Regions from separate parts of the Homo sapiens genome. Here region 1 is linked to region 2. The links come from fine-mapping of genetic effects on gene expression. Tissue or cell type: prefrontal cortex. Region 2 holds a variant in brackets; the other region holds the start of a gene. All regions are shown on one strand. Distances are between the middles of the regions.

The links. PIP is the estimated chance that this variant, and not a neighbour inherited with it, causes the effect.
Region 1: NSG1 starts here. The variant in region 2 is fine-mapped to the expression of NSG1 in prefrontal cortex (BrainSeq, PIP 0.95).

Annotation. Positions count from the first base shown.
Region 1 is chr4:4,381,634-4,392,554 of GRCh38, reverse strand. It overlaps NSG1 (neuronal vesicle trafficking associated 1), which reads right to left and starts at 5,453. Exons shown (of 5, transcript NM_014392.5): 1 at 5,382-5,453; 2 at 4,797-4,951; 3 at 964-1,080. The coding sequence starts at 4,925. It overlaps LOC112268462 (a long non-coding RNA gene), which reads right to left. Exons shown (of 3, transcript XR_007058004.1): 3 at 7,946-8,033.
Region 2 is chr4:4,421,495-4,432,415 of GRCh38, reverse strand. STX18 (syntaxin 18) reads left to right here. Exons shown (of 11, transcript NM_016930.4): 8 at 7,194-7,252; 9 at 8,829-8,898. Among named protein-coding and RNA genes, the nearest start is that of NSG1, 40 kb to the right of the region's middle. RefSeq lists an enhancer at 4,853-5,396. The variant A/G (reference allele first, on the strand shown) is at 5,382.

The DNA of each region.
Region 1 (10,921 bases), 40 kb after region 2:
CAAGGTTGTCACAGAGATCCAATATGATGCCATACCCACAGGGGCTCTGGAAACTGCAGCGGGTGGGGGTGGGAGTCCCTGTGCCCCCAGCACAAGCAAACTGCTCACACTGCCAAGTGGAGGGTGACCAGAGAGCCAGACAGGGCCACTCTGCAAGGCCTGGGGCCCACTGATGTCTCTCAATTCACCTCCTTGAATCTGGATGAGGCTACCGCTTTACTCTCTCTCTCTCATGTTTCCCAAAGAATGAGTTTCCTGATCAATATCCCAACTTGTTCTTCAACCAACGTGGCCTCTGAAGGCAGCCAGGCTGGCAAGAAGGCTCCTCCCACCGAGACAGGCTGGAACCCTCCCGCTCTCAGCAGCACCCCTTCATCCCATTGGGATGGGGGGAAGGATGGAGGATACACACAGGCCCAAAGCCAGACCCCCTGCAGATCAGATCCTGGCTCTGCTGTGTAGAGCTGTGACCACTCTGTGCCTCAACCTTTCCATCTGCAAAATGGGTTATACCGATAGTACTGGTGTGCCAGGAGGGTTGCTCAGATGAGCTCACTAGGTAAAGGGCTGGGACCCCTTTCTGGCATGTGATCAGTGCTGTGCGTTATCTTTTTGTTATTGCCTGCTTCCTTCCTGGAACTGTTAAGTAAATATTGTAATGTTTGGTAAGTGATTTTTCATATGTTTATAATCTTTGCCTAAAAGACAGTTTGTGGGTGGGTTTCCCCTGTTATAAAAATAAGTAATATGTGATCATTTTGGAAGAGGAAAAGAAAAAAGAAATGTACAAAAAGCACAAGGACAACATCTTGGCAGGCAGTCACAAGCTACTGGGTGTGCACAGCTGGGATGAGCCCAGACAAACGGCGTCAAACCCTGGCCCTCCCTGCAGGGCATCTATGCAGCTCAGCAGACCCCTTCTGGGGGCAAAAGCAGCATCTCACCCAGCACAGGACCACTCACCTTAAACCTCTCGGTGACACCCTCCGTGATGCTGACGGTGAACTCAGCAATTTGGGGAGGACGTGCTTTCCCTTTCTTGCGGTCAGGTTCATACTCGGTCTTAGTTTTCACGACCACCTTATCCAGGAAACAGAGAAACAAAAGTCAGATGCATTCAGACATATCTGCCCAAAGAGGGTGGGTCTGGGAACTCCCATATTCAAAGTCACCATTTGCCAGGAAGAAATTCACAAGAACGAGAACAGCCACTACTTTTTGGAAATCTCCTCTGTGGCAGGACTTTCAGAGAAATGACCCATTCATAATCCTGATAGCAGTCCCAGGAGGGAAATATTATAACCGAGGGGCACAGAAGTTAAGCTCATTGGCCAAGGTCATGCGGTTTATAGGCGGCAGGGCGGGGATGCAGCCTGGCAGCTGACTCCTAACCCAGTGCTCCTTCCACCCACCAGAGCCAAAGCCTGGCTTGGCCCAGGAAGCTGGGAGGCTGCACCTGCCTTTTCACTGGCCTTGCTGTGCCACCATGGGCACAAGAAGAGGAGGTCTGAGGGTACTGTCCACAGCCCTCCAGGACTGGCTGGAGAAGCTGGCCACCAGCTTGTCTGGAAACAGATCCAGGATCAACCTCTTTGTCTCCACCCCCACATCCTCCTCTCCCCCTGCCCCTGCCACAGCCCCCAAAGGGTCTCCCTGCTCTCATTCCCCTCCACCCCCTACTGTGAAGCAGAACGATGTTTGTCCAACCTGGAAACCAGCCCTTGCATCTGCCCTACACCCCAGCAGCTTCAGATGGACCCAAGAAGCCTCCCAGCCCTGGACACTCACAGCCCTGGCCTCAGCGGCGCTGCCTTCATCACTCACCACACCCGTTGCCAGGGACTGTTTACTTCTCTGTCCCACTGGACTGGGAGGTGTTCAAGAGCAGGGTCAAGGTGTTATAGGTCTCTAATCCCCAAACCCCGCTCCCCAAGCCAGGTTCCAGGAGAGGCTGTTGCACTAGAGACAGCCAGCCACCTCCAAGCTCTTTCTCCCCCGAGGGACGAGGCCCCTTCATTGGGCAGTCCGTCACCTGCTCTCCACGATGGTGGGGACCAGGACAGAACAAAGAGACCCCAGCAACTGGGGATGGTCAGCCCCAGGCGGGCAGCCAGAGGGCCTCTCATCCGGTGCTACGACCCCCAAAGCCAGCCTTGGGGAGAAAGAACAGCGGAGCCCATTCCAGGGTCACTGAAAAATGATCCCAAGAGCCATAAACCTTGTAACCACACTCTTGGCCTCTGACCCCAACTCCTTTTCCACCCAGTGCTCCTGCGGTGGAGAGGGAGGGGTGCCTGGCATGGGTTGGCCTGGGCACCCACCCCTGTGAGGCACTCATTGCTTGAGGCAGTGGTTGGGTGTCACCCTGCCATCCTCAAACCCCGACTGGACCCAACTAGCCATGTGACCTTGAGCACGCAGGCCTAGACTGGCCAATGAATGGGAAATAAGGCTACTGCTGAGGATGAGGAAACCCATGGAAACCTCTCCCGTATGTGGGGGCCCCATCAATATTCTGTCGACCTGGATTCTATCCCCACCTGCCACTAACAGGCTAGGTGACCTTGGGCAATTCTCAAACTCTCCGTGCCTGCATTTCCACATCTGCAAAATGGGGGTAACATGGTAGTGACCTCATGGCATTATCAACACATTAAAAGAATTTAAACCTGTAAAACTGGCAGAATAGTTCCTGGTGCAGAATAAGTGTCTGGCAAATGTCAGGGGAGACCAGCCCTGACTCTGCTGCCAGCACTGTGACTGCTGTCACCGCTGCACCCCAGCACCTCAGCACTCCATACACGTTCTCAGAACAGATTCTCATTTATAACCCAACTGTGTCACCACCCCTCAGAAGCCATGTCACCTGAAACAGGTGACATCGCCTCCCTGAACTCTGACCGTTAGCAACACGTTGCTGTTGTTCAGGTTAAGAGAGGTCTTACGTGAGAGACATCTGGCTCCAAGCACAGTGGAGTAAGAGGCACTGCCAGAAACTTCTGCATCCTGGAGGACTGTAACCTTCAGCCCAGTGACCTTGGGTATGTCCCATAAATGCTCTGAGGCTCAGTTCCCTCATTGTGACCTTAGAAGCCTTCTGGAAAATGATCCCAAGAGCCATAACCCTTGTACCCACACTCAGTCCCGGCGGGAAGTCCGGGATGGAAGGTCTGGCTGGACCCGAGAAGAGCATCCCTGCTGGCTGCCCCGCTTCGGACGCTTGCAGAGAGAGCAGACTCATCACCTTTCCGAGCTGCCTAGGCTACTCCTGGTCGACCTAATTAGTTGGTGAGGATTTCATACCTGCCTGAAACCCTCCTCCCTGTATAAACCAACTGTGCCAAATGGTTCTGGAATGGAACAGACTGAGGACAAGAGAGGAGGCTCAGGCCAAGTGAGGGGAATCACCTGATAGAGGTGCTGCCTCAGGACACGGAGTTCCTGGCACAGGCGCCACTGCTCCTCAGCCGAGCAGCTGGGGGCCCAGGCAGGAGGGGGTGTGGGGGCCTCGGGGCCAGGCCCCGCTAACTGGACGAGTCTGATGCCTAGACAGGGAGGGGTGGAGTGGAAGCTGAGGCCTCAGGCAGCCCTGCCCCTCCTGCAAAGCCTAGCCTGGACCATCAGTGGCCCAGAGTGGCACCACCGTGGCCTGGGGGGCACAGGTGTGGCCGGCTGATCCCCCTTTCTTGAACTGAAACCCCCGCTGCCAGCCTCTTCCCGGCTCCTGCCTCCCTCCCCAGACGACACACACAATAAAGCTGGGAGGACACCTTCACAGGGGTCAGGGCCCCCACCAGGACACCCCCACCCCACAACACCCACCCCGTCAGCAATCACCAACTTGCTGGAACGAAGACAGAGCCCTGGCTCAGAGCCCCTTCACCAGGGACTAAATGAGAAAATAAATAGAAAAGCACTTCCGGGAATTATTCGTGGCTGTGGTGGTTCGTAAGCGGCAGCAAGATGCTGAGAGTAGATGCTGTGTCTATGGTCTTAGATGTGAATTTTACAGTACAATTGCCTAGACATGCAAAGATCTATTTACATTTTTAAGTGTTAACTCTTGGAAATATTATTCTTAGCAAACAGAAACTACTTAATTGGATGCTACATTCAAAAAGAGGAGATTCTTTAAATTCAGCAGAAAACACTTTGGGGAAAGGTTGATGAATGGTTTTTCCCAGTGACACCAATACTGAGCGAGCCCGGGCACTTATTTGGAGATTTCACAAAAGGAACAAAGAGGAAGGAGACCCTGTGTGAGCGCGCACACCCTCCTGCACCTAGCGCCAGCCTGGCAGGGGCAGGCAGAAAGGGCGAGAACAATTCAGCCCTGGGGAGGGGCCATCTGACCAAGGAGAACGCTCCCCCGCCTCGGTGGGGCAAGTCGGGCTGAACTGCCACACCCGGGAAGGTACAGGGGCAGCCTCGCCCGCCCCTAGGCTCACCCCCGATCCAGAGCCCCTGGGGCCACGGGGCAAGGGAGGAGCAGGGCAGCTGCGGGGCCAGGGCCCTCTCGGATGAGGCTCCCAGGAAAAACGCGAAGGAATCTTGCCCCACCGCGTTCCACTGTCAGGACGAGAATATCATCTAAGGCAGGGCTCCCCTCCCCCGCCCAGCATCCCGCGATCCAGAATCCCGCGCGGGTACACTGTCCTCGCCGCGCTCCCTCCGGCCTCCCGAGCCCGCCCCCACTTCGCGTACCCAGCGCACGCGGCGCGTTTCTTTTGTTGCGCCCGCCGTGCGAGATTTGGGGGTGCACACCCGGCAACGTGGAGGGGCGTGGGGGGGCTTACCTTATCCGGGGGCGGGAACTGCAGCTGATTGACATCGAGGGGCGTCATCAGGGGAATGGTGTCGAAGCCATCCTCCAGCAGCGGCTGCTTGGTGCCCTTCTCTGCGAAATTGTTCCCCAACTTCACCATCGTTCCGGGAGCTCCGAGGCTGCAGCCTGCGGCGGGAGGGCCGGGGGGAGTCACCACAAGCAAGACCCGGGGCGGGGCGGGGGGGAAGTGGGCACCCACACCCACCGGCGTCCCGGCGTCCGCGAGCTCCCCGGCCCCGCTTCGTCTCGGGGAGGGCTCGTGGGGACGCGGTGGTCACGGCCCGATGCGGGGGTCGGGTGGTGCTGTGTATTTCTAGACCCTCATCTCGCAGGACCCAAGCGCCGGGCGCAAGGGCGCACCGCGGCCAGGGAAGGGGGCGCCGCCCCTGCCCAGCACCTCCAGACCCGGTCCCCGGTCCTGGGGCCGCCGCACCCGGGCGACCCGCTGTTCACAGCCCCGTCCCGCGTACTCCGGGAGATGGGCATCCCCCGGGCACTGCTCCTGGGCGGGCAAGGTCTGGCCTCGGCAAGCCCAGGCGCGGCCGGCCGCACTCACCCACGCCCGGCTCCGGCAGGTCAGCTGAGCGCTCCGAGCTCCGCGTCTCCTGCTCCTGCTCGCAGCAATGGCGGAGGCGGCGCCGCGCGCGGACCCGGGAAGGGGAGCGAACGATTGGGCTCCACGGCCGCTCCCTCCTCCTCGCGCCGCCGCCTCCCTTCCTGCCTCTCCCGGGGGCTGGGTGCGCGCGGGTGGGTGCGCGCGTGTGGCCGCGCCTCCACCTTGACGCAGCGCCCGCCCGGCCGCACAAAGGAGTGCGGGGCTGGGCGGGAGCCTCCCCTGGGACCACGCGCCCGCCCTGAGCCGGGGGAGGGAACAGGGGAGCGGGAGAGGACGCGCCCCCAGGGGGTCTCGGAGCGGCGGAGGGCGCCCGGAGCGGGAGGGCTGCGGGCTGCGCCACCCCGGGCGGCGGCCTGGGCGCGAGGCGCTTAGAAAGGAGAAAGGGGAGGCGGGGACCGTAGGGACAGAGCGACCCCCAGGGGTGCGGGGAGGTGCAGAGAGGGTCCCCGCCCGCAGCGCGCCGCGCTCACCTGGGGGTCCTGAGGACGTTCAAGGGTTTGGGGGGATGGGTCCAGGAGGCGCTGGGTGGTGGCGGAGACCAGAGCAGGGTGCTCCTTAGTGCTGGGTTGGGGAGGGGGCGACCAAAAGAGGGCGCGTCCGCGTATAAAGGGGGCGCGGCCCGTAAAGGAGGCGCGGCCCGTAAAGGAGGAGGAGGTTTTCGGTGGTGCGGGAGGCGGAGTAGCGCTCTCCCAGGGCTGGGGTGTGGGCGCCCAGGGTGAGGCTGCCCCAGGCAGCGGGAGGGAAGTCGTTCTAGGCAAAGAGCGCTCAGTGCGCCGCTTGGAGGGAGGCGGAAAGGTTCCTCCGCTCTGGTTGGCAGAGAAGGTGGAGGTCCCACTGCAGCCGCCGCCCGAGCATCCTGGGCACAGAGGAGGGGCCGCTGGGACGATGCCCGGACGCGGAGAGAAGGGGGGTGGTTCTAGCCCGACCTGCGCCCCCAAACCCCGAGCTCAGCCGCTGTCGCGGCTTCCCAGAGAGGGTCCTGTTTGCAGACCTCCAACCCGTCCTGCCTGCAGGACTCACGGATGAAAGACTATGGGGTGTGGGGGCGAGGCCGAAATGGGAGTGGAGCCCGCGCGGGAGGAGGCCGGCTGCGGGGATCGGTGCCTCCTGGGCACCTGGGCCAGGAGCTGGGCCCTGTCAGGCGCTGGACGAGGAGGAGGCATCACCCAAATTCGATACTTTTTCACACCCTTTCCGGGGACTTCCCCGCGGCACTACGGAGGGTCCGGGGCGTTTTCCATCAGCCGTCTGAGAATCCTGGGAATAAGCCCAGAGCACAGGAGCAGCCACCGCCTTGAGCCCCAGGCACAGCCTGGGAACTTGCCGCGGGTGCCCTGATTTCAAAATCCCCAGGAGGGCTAGCCGTCTTTGACAGGTGACCTAGTGGGTATCTCGTAACTCGCCCCAACTCTCCAGCCAGGGTCTAAGTGTGCCTTTGACCACAGGCCAGCCTGGTCTGAACCCAGGCTCCTGGCAGAGGCACCCCGCCCCCAACCCAGGGAAAGCGGGTGTCAGACTCTGGCCCCTGCCACGGGCCTCGGGGACCCACAGAACCCACCTTTTTGGCACTTTGATGCCTCCCTGAAGCAGGTGAAGAAGAGAAGATTTCTCTTGCTCCACTTCAGAAATCTGCCCAGGCATCTGCCATGAGAGTGACCCACTGGTCAGGAGAAACCCTTTGGGCTTAAGCAAGGAAATGGCTTTCCCGCACCCCCCCCCGCCCCGCCCCCCGTCTCAGGCTCAAGCATTTAACAGAACCCAACACACACGCGCGCGCGCAAACACACACACACACACACACACACACACACACACACTTGGTCAGAATTCCACACCAGGAGGAACAAAGTGGAGGCCCTGCCCCTCCCTTAGAGACTCTGTCAACTGAGGAGGACAGAAAGGCAAGAAGGACCTAGGTTGTCCCAGAGATGGACGGTGAACAATCATGTTTCTCTGCTAGCTGGCCTTTTGTGCTGTCTTGGGTCTTCACTGGTGCTGGTCATTGGGACTGTTTCATCCTGTGGTTTTCTTCCTCTGCTGATTGTATCTGGGCCCTGTGAAGGGCATGGACAATGCAAAATGCATGAGACACAGCGCCACCCGCAGGGAGCTACGGACAAGGGCAAGTCTTTGCTGGGAGCAGTGGCCCTGTGGGAGAGTGGCCTCTGCCTCTTGCCAGGAGGGAGGACATCCAGAGACTGTGGGTAAAGACTGTGGATAAAGCTTCCTACAGGTGGGCCTGAGAGAGGTGCGTGCAGAGGGGAAGGCATTCCAGGTAGGAGAACAGAATGTGTTAAGACAGTATATGAGCTTCCTGCCACTGTTGGAACAAATTTGGCTTAAAACAATAGAAACATGTTCTCTCCTGGCTTTGGAGGCCAGAAGTCTAAAGTCTAGGTCCCAGCAGGGCCTCACTCCCTCTACAAGCCACAGAGAAGAACCTGTTCTTTCCCCCTCCAGCTTCCAGTGGCTCCAGACATTCTTTGACTGTGGCTGCATCACTCCAATCTCTGCCTTCATGTCACTCCAGTCATATTGCCTCCTCCTCTTCTCTGTGTCTCTTATAAGGACACTCATCATAGGATTTAGGGCCTGCTGGGATAATCCAGGATAAGGTCTCCCTCTCAAAATCCTTAACTTAATCCTATCTTTGCCATATAAGATAATGTTCACTCTTTTACTATGTAAGGTAAATCAGGTTCCCGGGGTTAGCATGTGGACATATCTTTTAAGGGTCGCCATTCAGCTCACTACAGGCATTAAGCTTGCAAGGGTGTGGTGATTTGGAGAACCCAAGTCATTCACAGAGGGTGGCAGAAATTAGGTTGAAGAAGCCACAGCCACCAAAATGGGGATGGCTGAGGCTGCAATGGTGGTTGCAGGTCAAACAGATGTCAGGTATTTTCACAACATACAAAAAGGGAAAATCAATGGGATGCGATCTCCCCCTGGACCAGTTTCATCCCAGCACCAACAATTTAAAATCCAAGTGCCACAGAAGATTGTTGACACATACTCAGTTTTTCTAAATGACTCTTTTTTTTTTTTTTTTTTTGGGACGGAGTCTTGCTCCGTCGCCAGGCTGGAGTGCAGTGCCGTGATCTCAGCTTACTGCAACCTCCGCCTCCCTGGTGCAAGTGATTCTCCTGCCTCAGCTTCCTGAGTAGCTGGGATTACAGGCACGTGCCACCACTCCCAGCTAATTTTTGTATTTTTAGTAGAGACGGAGTTTCACCATATTGGTAAGGATGGTCCTGATCTCCTGACCTCGTGATCCACCTGCTTCAGCCTCCCAAAGTGTTGGAATTACAGGAGTGAGCCACTGCACCTGGCCCTAAATGACTCTTTTAGGAATACTTCCAGGGTTGCTGATCTCAGGCACAGACCCATCACTGCCTGTACGATTGTAACTCCTACCCTGCTCCCTCTCCTCAGGGCAGCCAGGCGCTGCTCTCTAATGACCCTGGTACTTCCAGGTCCAAGCGTTTTAGCAACTTCCCTTGTCCCACTGGTTGAAGTCCAGACTGTCACAGCAAGAGACAATGTGACACAGTGGCTAAGCCGTGGCCCGATTTTGAATCCTGTCCCTCTCTTCCTAGCAGTGTGACTTCAGGCAAGCTGCTTAACCTTTCTATGCTTCAGTTTCCCCATCTATAAATGGAGATAATGAAACCTCCATCAGAGCAGTGTTGTGAGAATCAAATGAGCTATTCTTATTTTTTTAAGTGCCTGTTTTAGGTATTACTATTGCTTTGACCTCTAATTCTGTACTCCTGTGGTCTCTATTCTTAGCAGCCGGTGCTGGAGCCAGGGCGAGGTGATAGACACTTTTCCTGGTTATGTGACAAGTGTTCAGAGTGACTAAGGTGACTCTTCCCCTAGAGGCCTCATGAGCCTCTTTGCAGGTCACAGAAGTCAAATGATGAGTCCCCGGCCACAGGCTTCCCTGCAGAGCTGGGATGGGTTGCAGGATCTAGTCAGGCCTCCCACAGCCAGCCAGATCTCCAGGATGGATGAGGTCCTGCTGGGAGGGTGGCCACCCAGTGCTGTCAGCCTATGGAGGTTCAGTGGCAGGTGATCAGCAGAGGTTCTGCTCTGTTTTTCTGCAGCCTGGCCACGTCGATCCAGCGATGCTTCATCCAAATGTCTTGTTTTTAGATTGAGATGTAATTCACATGCCACAGATATCACCAGTTTAAAGTATACGCTTAACTGGTTTTAGTATATTTACAAGGTTGTACAATCATCACCACTAATTTCAGAACATTTTCATCACCCCGTAAAGAAACCTGCATCCCACAACAGTCACTCCCTGCACACATCCTCATCTCTGATGGTTTTAAGTTTCTTGGGTCCACTTCTCAATCCACGGGACCAGCCGGCACGCTGGGACCAGCCGGCACACTGGGATCAGCCGGCACACTGACACAGAATCGGGAGAGACATTAGGCTCTGGATCTTTCTGCAAATGGGACAATCCATTTGCAATGTGAAGAATCAGCCCACCTGGGTGAAGTCATCCCTGTTTCTCCTTAAACCCTGTCCTGTAGCCAAATTCTCCATTCCCCCAAGTGCCTGCCTCCAGGCCTTTGCAAATGCTGCTTCTCTTGCCTAGATTGCCTTCCCCACTCCTCATCGATTTTGCAAACTGCTCCTCATCCTCCAAAGCCCAGATCCAATGTTGCCTCCTCTTTGAAGCTTGGCCTTTCTTTATGCTCCTCTATCCCGGAGTCTGGGTATTTACATTTCTATATAGATCATGAGCAAATCAGGCAGAACCACTTAATCTTTCATTTCCATATCCCCCCTGTCTAGAGCATGGCCTGGTAATCAGGAAATGTTTGCTTAATTGAATAGGCATCCACTTAGCTTACATTCACAGTAAAGTAAGACATGAACATCAGAGGTGTAAATTCGAATTCAAGTGCATAGTAAGAAAGTCAGGTCAGGCCTGGTGGCTCATCCCTTTAATCACAGCACTTTGGGAGGCTGAAGTGGAAAGAACCCTTGAGCCCAGGAGTCTGAGAACCACCTGGACAACAAAGTGGACCCCCATAAAAAAAAAAAAAAAAGAAAAAGAAAGAAAGGAAGGAAGGGAGGGAGGGAGGGAAGAGAGAATTAGCCAGGTGTGGTAGCACAAACCTGTGACCCCAGCTACTCAGGAGGCTGAGGTGGGAGGATCGCTTGAGCCCAGGAGTTTAAGGCTGCAGTGAGCTGTGATTGCACCCTGCTCTCCAGCCTCAGCAACAGAACAAGAACAAAAAAAAAAAAAAAAAAGAAAGAAAGAAAAGAAAATTCATGGTCTAATTAAAACCGAAGGCAGGTTTGCCCATGACATCGTTGTGATGCTCTCTTCTTAGAGTTCACCTTACTGCAAAATACCCATTTCTGGAAAACCCCAAATGTTATTATTTAAAATACATAATATATAAATGAAATCATAAATATAGTTTCTAGTGCTCTCCAGCGTTTTATTTACC
Region 2 (10,921 bases):
TAGCTGCCCGTGTGCCATGAGCAGGGAAGGACTGTGGCATGCATGCCATCATGGCAGGGTCAGGGCATGCAGGATGGCAGCTGGAGCTCAGACCATTTTCATATGCCTTTCATATACAATTCAGTTTCACACAGATTTATCCACCCAGATGAGTGGTTTCCCCTTTAAAATCATCGCCTTGAAAGCTTGAAACTGATTCCAGTGATGGTACCATTAGCCCTGACTTTCCTGAGACTTGCTTTGGGGGTTCTCCTTCAGAGCCTGTGATATTTTCTTTGGAATACTAAGCAGAGCTGTCTTTGTCCTTTACAGACAAAAATAATTCTGAACTAAGAAAATGACTCAAACACCTTAAAGTGCCCTGCAAGGTCCTTGCCTTCCTTTCCAGCTTCTTTCATGTTCCAGAATTCACCTTATGACTTGAAATAAGTGCTCACCAAATCCAGCAAATGTGGGACCTAGGCCCTCGAGGTGCACATTGTATAGTCGGTGGTTAGAGGAAGACAGCCGCAGGGATTCCAAGCAGTCATTGCTGTCAGTCAGGTTGAGAGATGAGGAGGGCCTTGAGCCGGGAGTGGCAGTGAAGGTAGTGTTGAGAGCTGTGGTGTAGGAAATGGCCTGCACTGAAGTGTGAGATGAGGAAGGAACCTTGAGCTTTCTGACGTGGGTCATCAGGAGGAGGGAGGGTGCACAGAAGGTGGGCAGGCTGGGGCTGAGCAGGAGATGATGAATTTCATGTAGACAGGTGTGAGTTTGAGGCGCCTGTGGGACATTCATGAGAGGTGTCTATGGGCTCCAGGGCTCGGGCTAGAGAAACGCATGTGGGAGACATCTTACAGCTGATGTTTGAAGGATGGGCTTGCGTGAGGCTCTCTAGAAACATGATGAACAGCGAGAAAGGAGAAGGGGTCATGGACACCACCCTGGGGTACACTCCACTGGAGGGAGGCTGGGGCGGAGAAGCCAACAAAGGAATGTAAAGAGGGATTGGATCATATTCCCGTCCTACAGCCAAATAATGGCAGAAGTTTCTTAAAAATCTCTTAGGTTTTCACCGGTTTATATGAAATCCTTGTATTAGTGGAAATGAGTCGTTTCCCCAAATATTATACCATTGCCCCATTTCTTTGCTAGACAAAAAATGTGTACAGCTCTGTCTCTTCATTAAGAAAGAATACGTTTGTATTTAAGAAGAGTTTACCTTCTGTGTTGGGCTTTTTTTTTCTTTCTTTCTTTTTTAATGCACTCCACCACTCTTCATAAAGGAAATAGCTAGAATAACAATAGTGTGGGTTGTTTGTCTGAGGATTTTTGCCTTTCTCTGGCAGGCAATGGTGAGCTAAGCATGTTAACCTTTACAGCTGCGTGACTTAGCAGCCTGTAGGTGTGAGAGTTGGACCAGAGGAAGGCTAGCAGTGAGGATATTCGTAATCACCTGATGCTCTCATCCTGTGGAGGGATGATGAAAGAACATAGGCTTTGGGACTAGACAGAGTTGGCTATGAATTTATACCACTTACTATCTTTGTAAGCTGAGGCAAGAAATCACTGCCATCAGTGATCTCTTCAGAATCAATACCCCACAGAATTGTCTCAAGCGCTGGATGCAGTAGCACCTGTAAGAGCACCCAGCAGAGGGCAGGGCAGAGCAAATGGTGACTCCCTCCCACCAGAAGGATACTGCCATGTCTGTGCATTGTGGCATGCCCTGCACGTGTTTTAGCAACTGATATGTCAGAGTACGGCTCCTCTCCCCACATTGAGGTTGATGCAGCATGCTTCTGTTTCATTCCACTGTCCCGAGTCATTGTCTAAAGACACCAGCGGCCACTCCCAGTAACACTGGTAGCTCTAGCATGGTAGTATCAATGACTAAAGCAATCAGAATCAGCAGGACTTCCTAATTTTTATTGTGTTACTGCAAGAGGATCGGGCAGAAGGCTGTAATGTTCAGTACTTTTATGACAGGCTATTTAATGTCCAGTTAACTTCTTTCTTAATTGGGAATAATAGCTAAGTACCATATCTTATAGTCTGACTAACTCAAATCTTATTTAAAAGGCTTAACTTTGAAAATAAAGAGAAAGAAATACAACACTGTTGGTTTTAAATTGGAAAATATTGTAGCAAATCGTGGTCATAATTCATAATCACTGTTTCGGAATTTTTCCTCAGGGTAAAATAATGAATTAAGCCCAATAATAGCAATATAATTCATTGTTTCACCCAAAGGAACAGTTATTACATATTTCAAAATGGTTGCAGGGTATTATATGATTTGCACAATAAATTTCCCTATATAACTCATGATACAGGTATATTAATGCCTTTGAGTTTGCAGGTGTTTGTGGTCAGGCTGAGTGGAACCAAATTGTTTTCCAAAGTTACATCAAGAAAATTTCTCCCTTTCTAAACACACATTCACTTTACTTGCCTCAGGTAAAACCACCTGCATTTATTGATGTACTCCTTGGGATAATTTTTTTAAAACATGAATGTGGCTTCTGTTTCTTAAATCCACATGAAAGGCGTCTTCCAAGGCCCTGTCCCCTGAGGTAGGCCTGTAGAAACTCCCAGTGGCTGGCTGGCAGGGCTCGCCAGTTTTCAGCTCATGCATCTAGAACAAGGATTGGTGGAATCTGAATACCACATAGTGAGAGCTGGACAGACCCTGGGGAGGTTCCAGGTTTACAGGGGCACAGCAAATGCTGGCTTCCACCAGAAGGATACGGCAGAGTCCGTCTACTGTCACATTATGGGGATCATAGGGGATCGAGGTGAGGGTCACACAGCCAGAAGTGTGAAGGGGTTTGGTACAGAGAAAGCACGTCTGGAAGAGTCCAGAAAGGGCTGGGCAGGGGACTCCTGAGCTATGAGGGCCAGAGGGCTTTCTGGGATGGTCCCCCTGTGCTCCTCAGCTTTTCTTGGCTCTTTGTGACACAAATACTTCTCTTGGCGTCATTTTATACTGAAAGGCCTTTGTAGGAGTGATTTTCTTTTGAAAATTATAGTAAAGAGGATTAGATTAGAAAAGGATTTCTATAACAATATATTCACAATGTGGATTTGTATCCTTTAAACCAGATTAGAAACCTTTTAGCAGGGCTTGATTGGAAAGTCTAACTGACTTCTAAATGGGATAAAGCAGTTGAATAATGATATTGTCTAATGCGCATGTGACACATACCATGTGCCAAGTACTGCTCTGAGCCCTTCAGCATATGTTCATTTATGCAACCCATATGGAGAGAGTATTGCTGGCCCCGTTTTACAGAGAGCTTAAGTCACCAGCCCTAGGTCACATAGGTCCCAAGTCCTAGGCTGTTCAACATGATGCTGTGCTGCCATGGTTGGAGGGTGGGGGAGAGTGCTGGTCTAGCTGAAGGAAAGCATTGTGTTTTGGTAGGAGACCGTAACAGCGTAGAGCAGATGGGCCAATGCAGGGAGCCCAGAGCAGCGGCTGGCAACCACCATGCATGGAGGGCCCAACCTGCCCACCGTACCCACCATCTAGGCCTCTCACCTTCCTTTGCAATTCCATAGGAAAATAAGAATTTCCTTGATTGTGTTCAGGTTTGTCTTCACAAAGCATCTAGATACCCATCTGTCGTGCTGACCTTGGAGACCAGGTCTTTCATTCAGCACCGCACCTTGCAAAGTGTGGCCACAAAGAGACAGATACTAGCTAGTGAGGCTCAGCGAGCTCTGGAAGAAGATGCTATGGGTGCATTTCCCAGTGCCTGGGAGAGTGAAATGGCTGAGAGCCACAGCAGGCCTCTAGGACTTTGAGACTAGAGGGTAGAAGGGGTCCCACAGCATCTGACCGCTCATTTTGCATATCCAGAAACTGACACCCAAGAGATTAAATCATGATAGACAGCCTTCACCGAGAGCTTACTATATGCCATGCACTTTGGTAGACAACTCACATGTATTCACTCATGTATTCCTTCTAACAACCCCACTACTTAAGTACTGTTACTATCCCCATTTTAGTGACAAAGACAGAGACGCCCAGAGATTGTGACCTCCAAAACAGCTTACTGCTTAGAAGGTGAGGGGCTGGAAGTCCAGCCGTGACTTTGCATCCTCAGGGTCAGGCAGAAAAGGATAAGAATCACCACATCTGTCCCCAAAGAAACTGACAGGCCCACCAGAAGCCAGTGACTGGCCCAGCATTGCCCCAGGGTTCCTATAAGGCCCCCAGAACTGGCTCCCATATCCACGTGGTACATCCACCACTATGCCTGCCACCTGGCAACAGACGAAGGGAGGCACACAGGTTTGCCATTTAGACAGCGTTGGAAGCCATACTGAAACCTGGTACAAGTCAGTGTTGTCAGCAGCCTTGCCATGATCTAATTGTCCTGGGCCCTGCCAGCCTCCTTAAGTAATAGTGACCTTGTAGTTGTCTGGGAAATAGGCCTTTTGTTTTTTAAACACAGAGGCGGCTCTCCATTAAAACTCCTGGCCGTTGGCAAACCTCTCTCCTCAGCCCTTAGCACCTTTGATCCTTGAGGCACCTGCTTCTCTTCCTCTAGGGACTAGGTATTTTTCAGGTGGGGTGGAAGGAAATTAGAGCCAGCATCTGATCCCACTCCTGAGTGCAGTGGAGGGCGGACATGGAGCTATCAGAAGTTAACAATTACGAAGAGGCCTAAGAGGAGGTGCCGCACCTAAGTGCCTTATACCACAGGCCCTCAAATTGGGGAGGAAACAAGAAAAGCTTTGTTCCCAAGGAACAGTCCAGGAATGAATCACCCCAAACCACTAGTTAATTTTGTTTAGGAACAGTTTCAAAGCATAAAAGGGACTGTGGATTTAAAAGGTCAGGGCCAGGGCCATATTTTGTCATTAGAAAAATTCAAGAAAATGCCGCCACCCAGGGAAAGCTGAGTAGTACCTGAATTAGCCAAAGTGAATTGGCGCCTGCATGTTTTAGTAATTACATGTTTTCCTTAAATACTGTCCTCTTAAGTAACTGTTGAAGTTAACAGAGCGGATACTTTCAAACTCAAAAGTGAAAGTTTTACTCTCTTAAATAGCCTTTGTCTTGCCTAATTAAAGGGGCCATAAGCAATTCTGTGTCAGCAGCCAGCACGGCCCCCTGCTGTGGATGAGTTGGTCCTGCAGGGAGCTTTCCTGGCACTTCCGCCCTTCCCAGAGCTTTGCCCCTTCCCCGTTTTCTGGCCCGGTGGGTCTGGAGTGCAGCAGATGCCTCCTTGTGTTTTGAGTAGCCGGGGCCGAGAACTGGTGTTCTGTCATGTGTGAGGCCCTGGGCTGGGCTCAGTGTCCAAAGGAGGACAGCTGCCTTCCACAGAGAGAAGACAAGCCCCCTGAACAAGTGTGAGAAATGTCCTTGAAGAGCCAAGTACAGGGGA[A/G]CTTGGTAACAAGAGTGAGAAAGTAAGAGAAGGTGATTCAGTCTGCCCTGAGGTATCAGATCGCTAGGAAGATGCCTGGGGTTTTGAGGGACCACGTGGAGTTCTGCAGCCAGGCAGGAAACTAGCCTGTCAGAGCAGAGCTGAGATGGGAGATGTCACGTGGCCAGGGCATGGATAACAGTGTGCCCTAGACCTGATCTGTAGGGTCAGCGGGCAAGGCCACCATGAGGCATTCTGGCATGACCAGCACTTGAGATCACTTTGACCAAGGATTGGATAACAGGTTGGAGGCAAGTGAGAAACGGTGAGGGTGGAATGTGGACGGTAGGGGAAGGGCTGAATACAGCAAGTGCATGTGCGGGGGCGAAACTGGTGGACTTAGGAAGGGGCGTGTGTGTGAAGAGCGCCTGCATAGAGCACAGCTGGGGTACTTGGAGGGGAGGGGTCCTGGGTGGGAAGGAGGCTGCTGGGGAGACCCTGCAACTCATTTCCGCCCTAGGACAATGGCAACAAGGTCAGGCTGTTGAATGAAGTGCCAGCATAGCCCGTGGTGGTCAGCTGCCTCCCATAACCATTGTTTCCCTTGTATTTTTGGTTTACTAAGCAAGTGATAAGCCAGATCTTCCATCGATTCGGAGCCTCCAGAGGCTTGCTTGTATGTATCCCTCCCACTCCTGCTTACAGAATGCCTCAGAAAATATTTGTGGATTTGATGGCAGCTTTAATCTATAAGAAAGAAAGAACAACTGGAATGCCTTTGCAAAGTTATGTTCCACCCAGTTCCCGCCCTCAGGAAGCTCAGGGTGACACGGGAAGTTTGGGATGGGCACAGTTTATTACAAGGCAGAAAGGGACCGTTGGGCGCTACTATCCTAAGATATTTTCAGAAAATGGTAGGCCAAGGATAGGAATATGAGAAATAAGTTTGAGCTTAGGGGCCAGGGTAGGTGTCCTGGAGAAGTGGGGCCTGCGGGATGCATCGGGGAGGAAATGCAGGACGCCCCTGACTCCCTGCACATTGCGGGAGTTGAGTGGACACACGAGGACAGGGCTGTGGGGGCCTGCAGTGAGGGCAAGGAGCTGTTCCTGTCCATTCTCTGTGCTGAGTTTCAGGAGCTTCCATCCTTTTCTTTGGCCCATATCAAACTGGCAAGAATGGCTGGGAGAGCAACTGTCTGTGCCAAGCTCACTCAGCTCCAAGAAGCTCCCATGTATCCCTGGTGTCAGGGCACCCGTCCTCACCCAGCCTGAGCACTGGGAAACACGCTCCTCTGGCTCTGGGCCTCTGTCCCTGTTGAGCAGTGGAGTGGCCAGGCTCTGAAGTCAGAGGGGCCCAGAGGCAGCTCGGCCAAGCTGCCCACCTCCCCTTCCTCTCCAGACCCTCCCCACACCAGATCCTTCTCCATATTAAAAAATATGTATAGTCCTTCAGTATAGTTCATGAGAGAAAACAACAACAAAAGAATTTTCTTAATAATGGTACTAGAGTCAGGAAGCAGGCCGTGGGATCCCAGGGGAGAGCGGGTAGGTAGATACAGCTACAGCCATAGCAGTCAGCTTGTACCCCTGGAGTGCAGTGGTTGAGATGGAGAAGTCAATTACCAGGCAGCACAGCTGTTTTTTAAAACTTTCTCCTGAAAGCAGGGACGTTGTTCACACTAATGCTAACGGTCGTCCAGCACCGGCTGCCACGTTGCCGCAGCTGGAAATGGGGGCTTCGGCAGTGATTCCTGGAGCGTAGGTCCGCTTTCTTGCTAGACTCTTGCCTAAGTTCAGTATGATGTCATCCTGAGTGTGTCTGTTTCCTCACAGTTTGAACAGGAAAATCAGCGACTAATTGGTGAAATGAACAGCTTGTTTGATGAAGTGAGGTATGTTTGTAGCTCCTCTGTGAGCTGATAGCCTGCTTTACAACTTTTCCAGGAACTAGGAACTTTATTTACCTTGGTGCCCAGGCATCCCCATGGGGCCCTTGGGCTGGTGCAGCCCCCCTCAGCCATTTTGACTGGGCTGGGGTGGGCATGTGGCCTGAATCCACAACTCCCTCAGCTTGTGGGCCTGTGGGTTACCTCCTGCCTGCTGCCACTGCTGCGGGGGGCCCAGGTGCTTCCCACCCCGAGAGATACAGGAGTGACTACAGATTACCTGCGTATAATTTCCACCACCATTCGGGCTGTTTCCACGCAGCGACTCTGAAATGAAATGGGGCCCTTATGAAGGGCAGCTAACCAAGGGAAGCCCTCTTCTGCAAATGGTTCCACTGGGGTCTGCCTGCTCCTGTACCCACCAGGGAGTCAGGAATGCAGAAGGCAAGGCCTTGGTCACTCACACATGCACCCGTTAGCCTCTAGTTTCTGTGGGAAGGCTTGGAGCATGCTGAAAGTAAGGCCCAGGACTTTGCAGAGCCTGTTGTATTGTGGACATGTCCCCCAAATAAAATCAATCCTGATGCTGCACTCACACAGCCTGAGGACTTTCTCAGTGTAGGTGTCAGCCTCCAAGGGGCTCTTCGCCTTCTGCCCTCAGAGATGGACCTCCTAGTCCTCCTCTGACAGCCTAGCTTTCACTGTCTGCCCCACTACCGCCCCCACCCCGCTACTCCCCCATGCCCAGATACTCACTGGCTTTTCTTCCCACATCTCCTCCCCTGCCCCCTGCCACTGTGATACTGTTGGGATTCATCACTGCTTCCACCTGGCCAGGAGCTCAGCTCCCACCACTTTTTGCCTCCTGTCACTTCCTGTCGCTGCTTTGTGCTGGAACAGCAGTTGACTTCAGCTTGGGCCAGCTTCTGTTTCTAAATAGATGTGCCCCCACCCGCCCCCCAGGGTAGCCCATGCTGCCCCTGACACCAGGAAGATGGCTAGCCCAAGTGTTTCAGATCCGACAGAACACTCCGTTGCCAAACCAAGACATGGCATTTTCTAAATGAATCAGAGGAGCTTTTTTCTTGGAACAGGGAGTTGGTTTGAAGGTAAATACACTTTTTTCTTTAACCTGCTGAGCATTAACAAAGCTGGATCATCAGCATATTCTGACCTTCTGAATCCCCACCATGTGTTACCATGGTGATGAGGCTAGGCAGAGAACTTACTGGAGACTGCTTTCTGTAACTGGGGCACAACCAGGCCCTCCCCATTCCCCGAGCAGTGACACAGAATGCAAAGGGCACTGCACACACCCACCTCTTGGGACTGAGGGTCAGTTGGCATGGTAGAGTGGACTTCCAAAAAGACCAGTGTGCTAGGCTATGCCAGAAGACAGGGAAGGTGACCCAGTAAGGAGAGTTCGCCTTCCTCTCCCATCTCCTCTTCCCCCAGCCGACACAGTGTGCCCCCTGTCTCTCCCACCTTCACGTAGAAGATAGGATTTCTTTAGAAGTGTGTAACAGTCCTGTTAGATTACCAAGTGCTAATAGTTAATATGTAATCTGTTCTTTTTATGAAGGCAAATCGAAGGGAGAGTGGTTGAGATTTCCAGACTCCAAGAGATATTCACGGAAAAGGTTTTGCAACAGGTAAAAAAACAAAAACAAAGGAGCTGTATGTTTTCACTCAAAGGGGAATGTACTTGAGAGCACGAGACATTTTTCCCAAAGGCTGCTGCTCTACACAGCCAGGAGCAGAGCCATGTGTTGCTAGCAGGTGTGTGTGCGCAGAGCTCCTCAGGGAAAAGCTCTCACTACCCAGAGCTGCCTCTGCACACGTGTGATGGAGGAGGAGCTCCCCACAGGGGACCCACTGACCACCCCATGTGGTAGCACATGCGGTGGCACGTGGGAGGAGAGTCCAGGCCTGGCAGTCAGGGTTCTGGATGTGCTGGGTAAGCTAGGTAGCCCCCACAAGCTACAGTTTCCCATCTATAGGAGGGAGGGACTCCTGCAGGGTTATTCTCTGTTTGAGAGATAACTGCAGAAGCATCCAGCACGATGCTGACGGGCAGTTGCTTTTCAGTCAGTAGGTTACAGGAGCTCAGACCCAGGCCTCTCACAACGCGCGGTCCATGCCACCTCAGGGATGGTGTCTGCGTGGGAAATAGGATTGTTCTTTTCAAGTGAATTTTCTGAAATTCTTCCAGCCAATAACTGGCAAAACTTTTCAAGACCTGATAAATTTGCCCTTTTATTTTTAGCATCCAAAGACTATGGGAACGTTTGAAAGACAAAATTTTCTCCAGTATTTTAAACTGGACTACTTGACTTAAGATACTTCACTCACAAAATGACTTTCCATAAACCACACAGCCAGAGTGAAATCATTGTAAATGAGGTACATTAAGTCTAACAGTGGTTTGCAAGTTCGGGTTCATAGGAGTCGCCCTTTTTAATAACACTACCCTGCTTCAAACCTCCCAGCGGCTCCAGGGGGCCTGGGAGGGGCGTGCAGAGCATAGGCAGAGCCTTGCCTTGGCTCACCGGGAGTTTCTTTTTCTTTTCTTTTTTTTTCTTTTTCTTTTTTTTTTTTTTGGAGACAGAGTCTTGCTGTGTCGCCCAGGCTGGAGTGCAATGTTGCTATCTTGGCTCACTGCAACCTCATCCTCCCAGGTTCAAGCGATTCTCCTGCCTCAGTCAGCCTCTTGAGTAGCTGGGATTACAGGCATGCCACCACGCCTGGCTAATTTTGGTATTTTTAGTAAAGACGGGGTTTCACCATCTTGGCCAGGCTGGTCCCGAACTCCTGACTTCAGGTGATCCACCTGCCTTGGCCTCCCAAAGTGCTGGGATTACAGACGAGAGCCACTGCGCCCGGCCCACTGGGAGTTCCTAAGTCCTGAGGAACAATGTGTCTTTCTTGTTTTTTCCATCAGTGTTGCATTGTAGTTCATATTGATTCTCTCATTGGAACCTTGGCAGTGGTCACTTAGTTCACACTTTGAGACTCTCTAAAAAGGGGTGATGATGAGGCAAAGCCATCCCAGTAATATTCATTGCTGGGAATCAGAGGCCACATGCTGCCTTCCTCCCTACAATGTGTCAGTCAGGTTTCTCTAAAAACCCACGCTAGCATTCATTCTGCCCTGACCCTGTTAGGAAGCAGCTTCACCACCACCGAAAGGAGGAGAGAAGCAGGCACTCCTGCTTGTAAGGACGTCTAGCACCGTCTCTGCTCCTGTGGGGCCAGACGCCCCCTGTGTTATCCCACGCTTCTCAAGCTTTTCAAGGCTTCGTTTGGAGTAAACGTTTTCTGTAAGCATCCTGCATCCTATTTTGATTTTTAAATTTTAGCCTGTTTTTTAAGAGATATGATGATAGTAAAACACAAAGCACTATTTTTGAAGCTAGCATATGTATTTCGAAGCACATACATTTTAAAGCTTACTTCTGTGGACTTCAGAAAGAAATGAGAGACTAGAAGGGAAGCCCCTGGCATATGGTGGCTGCTCCACAAACAATAGCTCTTAGGTTTTTGTCCGTCACCGGCGAGTGGCGCAGGAGGGATGGTAAGTGTGGCGGAAGGAGCACTGCAACAAGATGGGGTCTCAGCCCTGCGCGGTGGCTCATGCCTGTAATCCCAGCACTCTGGGAGGCCGAGGCGGGAGCA